Homo sapiens: one gene and its partners. The protein of the gene in region 2 purifies or fractionates together with the protein of the main gene of each other region. This does not show direct contact. Each region holds a gene or a part of one and is shown on either strand. Other genes may lie near its edges.

The links.
Region 1: the proteins of EPB41L2 (region 2) and ACIN1 purify together in Homo sapiens (affinity purification with mass spectrometry; 2 studies listed by BioGRID and IntAct, with this or other methods). This does not show direct contact.
Region 3: the proteins of EPB41L2 (region 2) and POTEI purify together in Homo sapiens (affinity purification with mass spectrometry; 2 studies listed by BioGRID and IntAct, with this or other methods). This does not show direct contact.

The regions. Positions count from the first base shown.
Region 1 is NC_000014.9:23,077,995-23,081,648, reverse strand, and holds part of ACIN1 (apoptotic chromatin condensation inducer in the nucleus), read left to right. Parts: exon of another isoform or gene 1-839; coding exon 840-2,102; exon of another isoform or gene 2,103-2,189; intron 2,190-2,610; coding exon 2,611-2,829; intron 2,830-2,951; exon of another isoform or gene 2,952-3,382; coding exon 3,383-3,498; intron 3,499-3,654.
Region 2 is NC_000006.12:131,053,166-131,056,819, forward strand, and holds part of EPB41L2 (band 4.1-like protein 2), read right to left. Parts: intron 1-3,654. UniProt on the Homo sapiens protein: Required for dynein-dynactin complex and NUMA1 recruitment at the mitotic cell cortex during anaphase.
Region 3 is NC_000002.12:130,485,256-130,488,909, reverse strand, and holds part of POTEI (POTE ankyrin domain family member I), read left to right. Parts: intron 1-711; coding exon 712-878; intron 879-3,654.

The DNA of each region.
Region 1 (3,654 bases), on a different chromosome or scaffold from region 2:
GGTTTTGTTTTTCTTTTTTGGGACAGAGTCTGGCTCTGTCGCCTAGGCTGGAGTGCAGTGGCACAATCACAGCTTACTACAGCCTCGACCTCCTAGGCTTAAGCAGTCCTTCCACCTCAGCCTCCCAAAGGATTGGGATTACAGGCATGAGCCACTGCCTGGCCTCTAGATTTCTTTGTGGTTATCTTCCTTCTCCTCTTTGTCATCTTTTTGTTGTTCGTTTTGTCTTTTTATTTAGATCTGCTCTGCCTTTTAGATTTCTAAGTGAATATTTTTTAAAAGTTTAAATTTGAAAATTAGCAGGCTGCTCTGTATTCTTAAAGCACATTATTAGACAAGATATGACATAATTAACCATTCAATCAAAGCTTTAAAGTTATATAACACTAAGTGGGCAGAATACAAAAATGTTATGTGTAGTGTAATTATGACTGTACAAAGGAAATGATTAGAGGAAAGAACAAAAAGAAATATACCAAAATGATAAAAAGATAATCGTATTAATTGATAGTAGGTTAGTTCCTTTCAGCCCCCTATCCACCCTTTTACTTTCCAGATGTTCTGCTAATATTTTACTGAAAAAAAAAAAAAGGGGGTGCTTGAAGCTAAAATTTAAACTACATACAAGTAGCTTCATTGTGATATTTCTTTTGGTCACTTTGTTTTGATTCCCCTAAGGGCTACGTTAGTCATGATTGTCTCCTGTCACTCCTGTTTCTGTTGCTGAAAGTATATATCATTGAATTTCTCCTTCCTAGGGGTGTCTTCATTAGATACTTTCTCTCCTCTGTTGACTGTGAGCAAATACATTTGGAGCCATTGTGTATCTGTTCTTTCAGGCAAGAGCAGCTAAACTGTCTGAGGGCAGCCAACCTGCTGAGGAGGAAGAGGATCAAGAAACACCTTCCAGAAACCTAAGGGTCAGAGCAGATCGAAATTTGAAAACAGAGGAGGAAGAAGAGGAGGAGGAGGAGGAGGAAGAAGATGATGAAGAAGAGGAAGGTGATGATGAGGGACAAAAATCTAGGGAGGCACCAATCCTGAAAGAGTTTAAGGAAGAAGGGGAAGAGATACCTAGAGTAAAACCAGAGGAGATGATGGATGAGAGACCCAAAACAAGATCCCAGGAACAGGAGGTGTTAGAGAGAGGAGGGAGATTTACAAGATCCCAGGAAGAGGCTAGAAAAAGTCATCTGGCCAGACAGCAGCAGGAGAAGGAAATGAAAACAACATCTCCCCTTGAGGAGGAAGAAAGAGAAATAAAATCTTCACAAGGCTTAAAGGAAAAATCGAAGTCTCCTTCCCCTCCTCGACTGACTGAAGATCGAAAGAAGGCCTCACTTGTAGCGCTGCCAGAGCAAACTGCCAGCGAGGAGGAGACTCCTCCACCTTTACTAACAAAGGAAGCATCTTCTCCACCACCTCATCCACAGCTCCATAGCGAAGAAGAAATAGAGCCCATGGAAGGCCCAGCCCCCGCTGTCCTCATTCAGTTATCTCCTCCTAATACAGATGCTGACACCAGGGAGCTATTAGTATCTCAGCATACTGTCCAGTTGGTAGGAGGCCTGTCTCCTTTGTCAAGTCCTTCAGACACCAAAGCAGAATCTCCAGCAGAGAAAGTGCCAGAGGAGAGTGTCCTGCCTCTGGTTCAGAAAAGCACACTGGCTGACTACTCAGCCCAGAAGGATCTTGAACCTGAGTCAGACAGATCTGCTCAGCCCCTCCCTCTAAAAATTGAGGAATTAGCACTGGCCAAAGGAATCACTGAAGAATGTCTGAAACAGCCATCTTTGGAACAGAAGGAAGGCAGAAGAGCTTCTCATACCCTTCTCCCAAGCCACAGATTGAAACAGTCAGCTGATTCATCCTCTAGCCGGTCCTCCTCATCTTCCTCCTCCAGTTCTAGATCAAGATCTCGCTCTCCTGACAGTTCAGGTTCTCGGTCTCATTCACCGCTCAGATCCAAGCAGAGAGATGTAGCCCAGGCACGTACTCATGCCAACCCTCGTGGTAGACCCAAGATGGGCTCCAGATCAACATCAGAGTCCAGATCAAGGTCACGTTCACGTTCTCGTTCAGCATCAAGCAACAGCAGAAAAGTGAGTATGAGAGAATCCCGGGTGTATTAATGTTCTGTCATATTCCAGTGGTTTTCATTTCAGCCCCTGGAGAGCCTGTCATGATTTCTGAAAGGAATAGGAAAAGCCTCCTTTACTCTCCTTCACTGATTACTTTCTCCTCATTTCAGAATCGTATTTTCAATTAACTGATTCCCGAAATGGGGTTCTTTTTCATTTTGAGTCCCTTGATAGAATGTTGAATTTATGTACTCATCTCCTCCACTAGATGGAAACTTCTTGAGGATGTGGGCATGCCCTTTTACGTGTGTGTCCCAGGATCTAGCATCTAGTTAAAACTTAATAATTTGTTAAATAAGTGGTCAAGGAGACCACTAAATGGGAATAAACACAGACAAAATGGGAGTAAACACAGACAAAAAGGTCCAGAGTATAAAATTTGGTCCATGGAAACTGGAAAACTCAGCAATCTACTGAATATATACCATATACAATAATTTTCCTTGTTATGTGTTTCATTTTGTTTTAGTCTCTGAGCCCTGGAGTCTCCAGGGACAGCAGCACCAGCTATACTGAAACCAAAGATCCCTCTTCTGGTCAGGAGGTTGCAACTCCACCAGTGCCACAACTGCAGGTCTGTGAGCCAAAGGAGAGGACTTCCACCTCCTCATCCTCTGTCCAAGCAAGGCGTCTGAGTCAGCCTGAATCAGCTGAAAAGCATGTGACCCAGAGGTTACAGCCTGAGCGGGTAGGCTATTGTGACCCCTCCCTACACAGAGATGGAGGATTAAGCAAGATCTTCCCTCTTGTCTTTGCTATAAAACTAAAAAGTTAAGTCTGGACAAGGTTCAGTAGAAATGTGGTGGATACCTGTTAATCCTGCTTAACTCATTTCCAGCTCCCTGGTTCGTAGAAGTTCTACATGAGGCTGAGCAGCAGGGTTATCTCCAGGGCCCCCAGGGTCAATTCTTCCTCATAACTCCTCCTTTTATCTGCCAAAAGGAAGTCAGCCTTTTCTCAGTTCTCTCAAAAAAGAATTCTGTCAGAACAAGGATCACTGAGGAAAAGGAAAAAAATTAAAAATTCTGATAAAATGATTACTGGCATAAATATTCTTGAAGTACCTATTTTTAAGCCATGTTCCTTTCCTTATTCTAAAATGAAATAACAGATACAGAGGGCCGTGTGTGGAGCTGGTACTGTGTATGTCCTGCCCTGCCTTTTTCAGGCTCCAGGTAGAAGAAAAGGAACCAAGCAGATCTAAATGTTTTGCTCTGTTCGTTTTTGCTATCTCCTGACAGGGGAGCCCAAAGAAGTGTGAAGCTGAAGAGGCAGAGCCACCAGCTGCCACACAGCCCCAAACCTCAGAGACTCAGACCTCTCATCTGCCAGAATCAGAAAGAATTCATCACACTGTGTAAGTGATATATCTCGACCGGGGTATAACAGGGAACTATGAGTGTGCGATAGTTCTTCGCTCCCTAGGGTTCTTTGACTAAGCAGTCCTAGTTTCCTTTTAAAACATAAAGGCAGAGCTTTATCTGGACAAAGGCTAGACTTCAGTTACTATGTT
Region 2 (3,654 bases):
GATTACAGGCATGAATCACCGTGCCCAGCAAGTAAATTTTAACAAATAATAAAACATAAAAATATTCTGAAACTTTAAAAAAAAAATCAAGAAACAAGAAAATCATGTTATTTAGAGACAAAACACCAGAAAATAAAACCAAAACTAGTGAAAGTAGTTGTGGCAGACTGTCACGGTTACTACTTGAGACCATCACTACAACAGTTACTACTGTTACTACTTGAGACCCTCATTAGGAGACGGGACGAAGGGACGAACATGGAAATGATAAAAAAAAAAAAAAAAAAAAAAAAAGAAACTGTTTTAAAGGAAAGGCCAGGGGAAGAAAAGCTCCCTGCTTCTAGTCAGCAAAGGCAGCCCCCCTGAGCTCCACAGCCCTTCGTATTTATTGGGTAACAAGAACAGGGAGGAGGAGGTAGCAACTGGTCAGCTGCTTAACTGATCGCAGGTTCATATTGTTACTAACAGGCTTCAGATGTACCTAATCACAAGAAACACTGCACTTGGGGCGTGACTGCCTTCAGCATTCCTTCTGGGTGGCATACACAGTTTGTCAGTTTGCCAACATTCTACATTTATGAGAAACATTTTGTTGCTTACTCATATAGCCTCCAGTGGTATACTGAGTTGATCATAACCCTCATTCTTTCGACCTCCAACGTTTCTCCCTTTTTGTTTTTTAATTAATTGAGAAAGGCAACTACAGGCTGTGCAGCCCTTAATTGCCAGTTGGTGGTCCAGCTGATCTTACAACGGGAGGCACAGGAAACCATGGCCAGCATGGCCACAAACATGGAGTCAGGGGTCTTTGCCTGACCCTGACACTAACAGTGTCTCAGCTTCCTGTGTGGTTTTCTTGATCTATCCCCATGTCATGAGGGTTGATGTCAGTGTGACTCCGGTCGGTCCTCATTCCATCTTCGCATTCAGATTCAACTGGCTCATGGCTCGTATTAGGGGAACAAGGCCTGTAGCTAGAATCCATGGATCTCTCCAGTCTTCCATTCCATGGTCGCACACACCTTGAGGGCACCCACACAGTTTGTTCATCTCCTTATGTTGTCAAGCAGACTTGTAACGGGGTTTCTCATTTGTCTGGTTGGTTTTAGTTTTTTCTGTTCCAGCAGAACTTCCTCATTCAAGTCCCTATAGGACCCTGTCTCTATCTGTCCCTGTCTGTCCCTGCAAGTTTCTGCTAGCTTCTGCTGGTCTCTGCTAGTCTTTGCTAGTCTCTGCTAGTATTTGCTAGTCTTTATCTATCCCTGTCTGTCCCTGTCTGTCTCTACGGTCCCTGTTAGTTCCTCCAAGTTGGTGCAAGTCCCTATCTTTCCCTATCTGTCTCTATCTCTATTTATCCCTACTTATCTCTATGTGTCCCTGTAGGCCTCCTCAGGTCCCTTCAGGTCTCTTCAGGTCTCTGTTTGTCACTGATAGTCCCTGTTCGGGCGCCACTTGTGGCACATTGCCACAGTTACTACTTGAGACCTTCACTACAACAGTTACTACTGTTACTACTTGAGACCGTCATTACGAGACTGAAGGAAGGGACAAACATGGAAATAACAAAAAAACAAAAGGAACTGTTTTAAAGGAAGGGCCAGGGGAAGAAGAAAAGAGCTCCCTGCTTCTAGTGAGCAAAGGCAGCCCCTGAGCTTCCACAGCCCTTCATATTTATTGGGTAACAAGAGCAGGGAGAAGGAGGTAAGGATTGGTCAGCTGCTTAATTGATCACAGGTTCATATTGTTACTAACAGGCTTCAGATGTACCTAATCACAAGAAACACTGTGCTTTGGGCATGACTGCCTTCAGCATTCCTTCTGGGTGGCATACGCAGTCTGTCAGTTTGCCAACATTCTGCATTTATGAAAAACAGTTTGCTGCTTACTCATATAACCTCCAGTGGTATACTGAGTTGATCATGACCCTCATTCTTTTGGCCTCCAACAAGTAGTTGCCTCAGGGGAGCAGAAATCTGTCAAGAAGGGAGCTAGGGCACTGGTCTGCTGCTTTTTTTCATAATCCCTGCAGTACTACCTGACTTTCTAAATCATATAAAGCACCCTGGAGAATGCCATTTGCACTTTAAATGAAAGCAAAAAGTGCAAAACCACAGGAAAGGCAGAAACTAAAGGTCGGGGGAGAGCCACATTTTATTCTGATGTGTTTTATCCTCTGGTATATTTTTCTAATATTGAAAAATCAGGCTAGAAACATTACTTTAAATGTCTCTAGTCTGAAAAACAAGATGAAGGGTACTCCCTGTTCCAGCATGATTCAAGAATCACACAACTAAAAGTAGTACTCAGGTCTGCTTCATAATCATACCTTTACACAAAAAACTACATGGGCGAACCCAGTCAGGAAAGCAATCCTGTCTTTTATAAAAGTTAGATACTGCAGATGCCAACAAATTGCAAAAAACTTCAACTTCTACTGAGTAATAACATCGAACAATTAAAAGCAATAACTGGAACTCACAGAAAAAACAAGGGTTTTAGCCATACACAAGCTGGGTGCCCTTGAGCCATTTATTCAATTTTTAAGCCTCAGTTTCTCATCCGTAAAATAAGCACACCAGCTACTCCAAGATGGTGCTGCAAAAAAGAAGCAGGGTTATTAACATATGTAAAGTACCAATTATAGCACCTGGTGTGTAGTCTGTGCTGCAAAACCATTAGCTTCCTTATTTTTTTTTTACATGGTTATTGATTATCAAAGCTTCAGGCCTTACAGGATTACTTACAATGGAACCTAGAACAAAGCTAGAACTGAGCATAAAATGCGTGCGTCAGGGACAGGTTAAGCAAAGCAGCTGATGCGTGACAGCACCAGAAGCAATAGACACAATAGACCCAGTGGACCCAGTGGACCAAGTGCTACACCATCATCTAATTTTTCTAGCCTAAAATAAGGATATTTATATGAAACCTGATTTCTTAATGTTGGCAACTAACAAGTTAAAACACGATGTTGCTGGAAAATATGTGTGCAGGTATATTTCACACAAAGATTTATAAAGGTTACATTTTAATGCCATATGCAGAGGTTTAAACATTGTCAACAAAAATTCTACTCACTAATAGGCTTTTTTCAACAAGTTTACTGTGGTTATAGAGAGAAGAAGTTAGAACATATGCACACAATTTTACATTTATAATCAGTTACCTCTGGCAACATAACAAAAAAGACTACATTATCCCTGTGCTGTTGAAACTAGATCCCAACTGTTTTCCCATATATATGCTCTTTTGTAAATTAACAAAAAGAATGAAGTTAAGACAAGAGTTTCTAAAAGCTCAAACATTATAGATACTGGACTGAAATTGTTAAAAAGTGGTTTTAACTTGTGATCACCATAGGAAATTACTGTTTCATTTCAAAGACTGTACTTCCACACAGATAATTATTCCTGACCACTGCAAAAAATCTGCTTACCACATATTCACCAGTAACCAACCCACTAGGTCTCTTCTTAACCTAACAATTTTTACAGATGCCAGGCACTCTATGAAGCATTTTATAAGCATTAGTTCATTTAATCCTCATGTAACTCTGAGGTAGGTATGATTTTTAACCCCTTACTACAGCAAACGAGGCTTTGAGAAATAATTTGCCCAAGGTCACAATGGCATATGTGGCAGTCTAACCAGCAT
Region 3 (3,654 bases), on a different chromosome or scaffold from region 2:
AGCTTCTTATTCTGTGTATCTTCCAGCTAGAAAATTGTATGGCTATTCAATGTGAAATTTGGGGAGCATCTCATTTTCTGGAATTCCATGCTTGCACGTCAGCAGTTTCACTCTGCTTCTTGTGTTGTGGCAAACTTTGGCTCCCATTTTCAGTGAGCACCATCATGTTTTTGATATCCCAGCAACCAAATGAAAAAAGAATGCTCAAAGGCAGTGGGGTAGAAGAATATCTTAGCGCAGAAAAGGGCAAACTTCCTTTCTGTTCCTGAAGCCGCACAGTGTGTCATCCTCTAAATCTGACTGTTTAATGTAAAATCTAGGTGGTAAAGACAGAAGACACATTTTGCATCTTTGTCTTTTTATTTGCGTGTTCCCATGAGTCAAATGGGGTAAATACATACATAAGATTCTGAAGAGTGATTGAGAATAAAAGCATAAAATGAAGGAGGGCCCTTTTTGAATTTTGGAAAATTCTGTTTCATTCATTGAAACAGAAATGAAGCAAACTTTACAAAAATTTCTGTGATATATTAATGATATGATAATTACATCTTAAAGTTATATGGTAATATTTCTATATATATGATCAAATTTAAGTGTGAAATATTTTTAATGACTAAAATAATGACAAACTGAGTCAATTGATAGAATCAATTAAAAAGGTTCTTTTTATTCAATAAAGTGATAACTATCCTTAATATCCCACTCAAGGTTGAAGAAGAAATGAAGAAGCATGAAAGTAATAATGTGGGATTACTAGAAAACCTGAGTAATGGTGTCACTGCTGGCAATGGTGATGATGGATTAATTCCTCAAAGGAAGAGCAGAACACCTGAAAATCAGCAATTTCCTGACAACGAAAGTGAAGAGTATCACAGGTAAGCCTATGGCAACATTGAACAGGAGATAACTATGTGCTGTCAAACTAACCCTAGTTTGGGCTAATATTCATGATGAACAAATTTTATAGTTTTACTAGGATATTCAGCCTTGCCCGTTAATCAGAAAAATGAAAATCAGCGAACAATGAGTTACCATTTTTCCAGGCATTAATTTATTTGAAAAATAACCAGTATTGGCAAATGTGAGGGAAAAGGCATTTTCTTTTCTTTTTAGTGAACTTTTCTTTTAGTTTCAGGGGTACATGTGCAGGGTTATTATATAGGTAAAGTGTATCATGGAGATTTGGACTGCAGATTATTTCATCAGCCACATAATAAGCAAAACACCAAAAGTTAGTTTTTTGGTCGTCTCCCTCCCGTGACGCTCCACCTTCAAGTAGACCCTGGTGCCTGTTATTCTCCTCTTTGTGTCCATGAGTTCTCATTATTTAGTTCCCACTAATGAGTAAGAATATGTGGCATTTGATCTTCTGTTCCTGCATTAGTTTGCTTAGGATAATGGCCTCCAGCTCCATCTGTGTTGCTGCAAAAGAAATGGTTTCATTGTAAAAGACATTTCATACACTGCTGGTAAATACATTTTGAACATTAATTTAGTAGCATATTCACAAACACATGTATAACAATAAGGATATATAATATATGTAAAGGATATTTGTGTAGATGTTACATATATACTTATGTATAAGGACATTTATTACAGCATTATTATATCAAAAAGATGGATCCTTATCAATAGGAAATTATCATTATCAAAAGTAAATCATTACCAATAGGAAATAGCTCAATTTTCATACCCAGAAATTAATGTAGTATGCAACCATTTTTTACAAGTGAGGTTAGATCTAGAGTATACTGATTATTTCACAATTAAAGTGTATTTAAAGCATCAGTGATGACATCTTAAGAGTTCTTGTTAAAATTCTTGTAATATTTCCTGTGTTGCAAATGGAAGCTACATGCTATATTGATGCTGTACCTTGTTAGCAACAAGATTGCTAGTTATTAAATTTTTATGTCAGTGCCTGAGTGCTGAAATATTGGACCCTCAATCTGAATATTGCCAAGGGATTGTACATGGGGATCTGTATTTAATATAAACGTTTCAGTATATTGGGTAAAACTTTTATTAAAATGTATCAAAGGATCTTTCATCTGCTAAACCAGGAGTTGGCCAGCTTTTTCTGCAAAGAGCCAGTTAGTAAATATTTTAGGCTTTGTGGACTATATAAATTAATTTATTTTTGAGACAGGGTCTCACTCTGTTTCCCAGGCTGGAGTGCAGTTGTGTGATCATGGCTCACTGCAGTCTTGACTTTCTGAGCTCTAGTGATCCTCCCACCTCAGCCTCTCTACTAGTTGGGACCATAGGTGTGCAACATCACACCCAGCTAATTGACACTGTGGACTGTAAAGTGAATAAGCATGGCTGTGTTCCAAAATACTTGACTTACAAAAACAGGCAGTGGGCTGGATTTGGCCCAAGGTGCTAGTTTGCTGACCCTTGTGCTAAAAGGAAGGTGCTGCAAGTGAAGTGACTCTTATTTGTAAAAGTGCCCTGCGTGTGTGAAATTATCCTTCCTTTGAGAAAAGGATATATTTCAGTATTCACCTCACCATATTTTTCCACAGTGACTTCATATAATTTTAAAAATTTCATTTATAAAATAAGATTATTGTCTGCATTTCTCCCACTTTATTCCTGTTAATAGAACCCAGTATTTTGCTGTGATCAATTACTTTGTATATTTGATGAGTATCAGTTGTCCTAGAATTGGCTGATTTTATCAAGCAAGAAATACTCTCCTTGAAACTTTTAGTATTTCTTGGTCTTTATGCATAAGCATGAATAAAATGATAATCAGCTTATGTGTAATCTAGAAATGTTCAAGGCGACTTTTAGTTCTATAGTTTTAAGAATTTAACACCTCAGTCTGGCATTTTTAATGCCACATGTGTATAATTTTTATAACCTTTAAAATATATTATTGTTATATAAAATTTGAAAACTACACCTGTTATATAAAACTTGAAACTATTTGTCTATTACTTTTCCATGACTGTGGAAGAAAATTACAACATTCTCAGTCATGACTCCTAAGCATGATGTCCTTAAAAGAACTGTCCACACTCACGAACTCAAATTTTCTTTTCATTCACTCTTAATCTCACACCGGCGTCTTCAATTTCAGCAGTCCTCCAACATTGTTTTTCCTCAAGATTATCACAATTTTTTTTCTGTAAATTATGCATTTTTTCTTACACCTCATTTTATTTAATCTGTCAGCAATATTTGAGCCAGTGGAGGGCGTCTCCTCCCTAACGGCGTCTTCACTTGGCTTTCAGGACCTCACTCCCTCAAGCTTTTCCTCCTGCATTTCTAGTCCATTCATCATGGTCTGTTTTGCTTGCTCCTCCTCATCTTTCTCCTTTTGGACATTGTTGTTTCCCAGGGCTCAGTCCTCAATCTTCTTTCTCCTGACTTTTTCTTTTTCTTTTTTTGAGACGGAGTTTGACTCTGTCCCCCAGGCTGGAGTTCAGTGGTGTGATCTCAGCTCACTACAACTTCTGCCTCTTGGGTTTAAGTGATTCTCCTGCCTCAGCCTCCTGAGTAGCTGGCATTACAGGTGTGTGCCACCATGCCTGGCTAATTTTTGTATTTTTAGTAGAGACAGCATTTCCCCATGTTGGCCAGCCTGGTCTCAAACTCCTGATCTCAGGTGATCTGTCTGCCTTGGCCTCACAAAGTGTT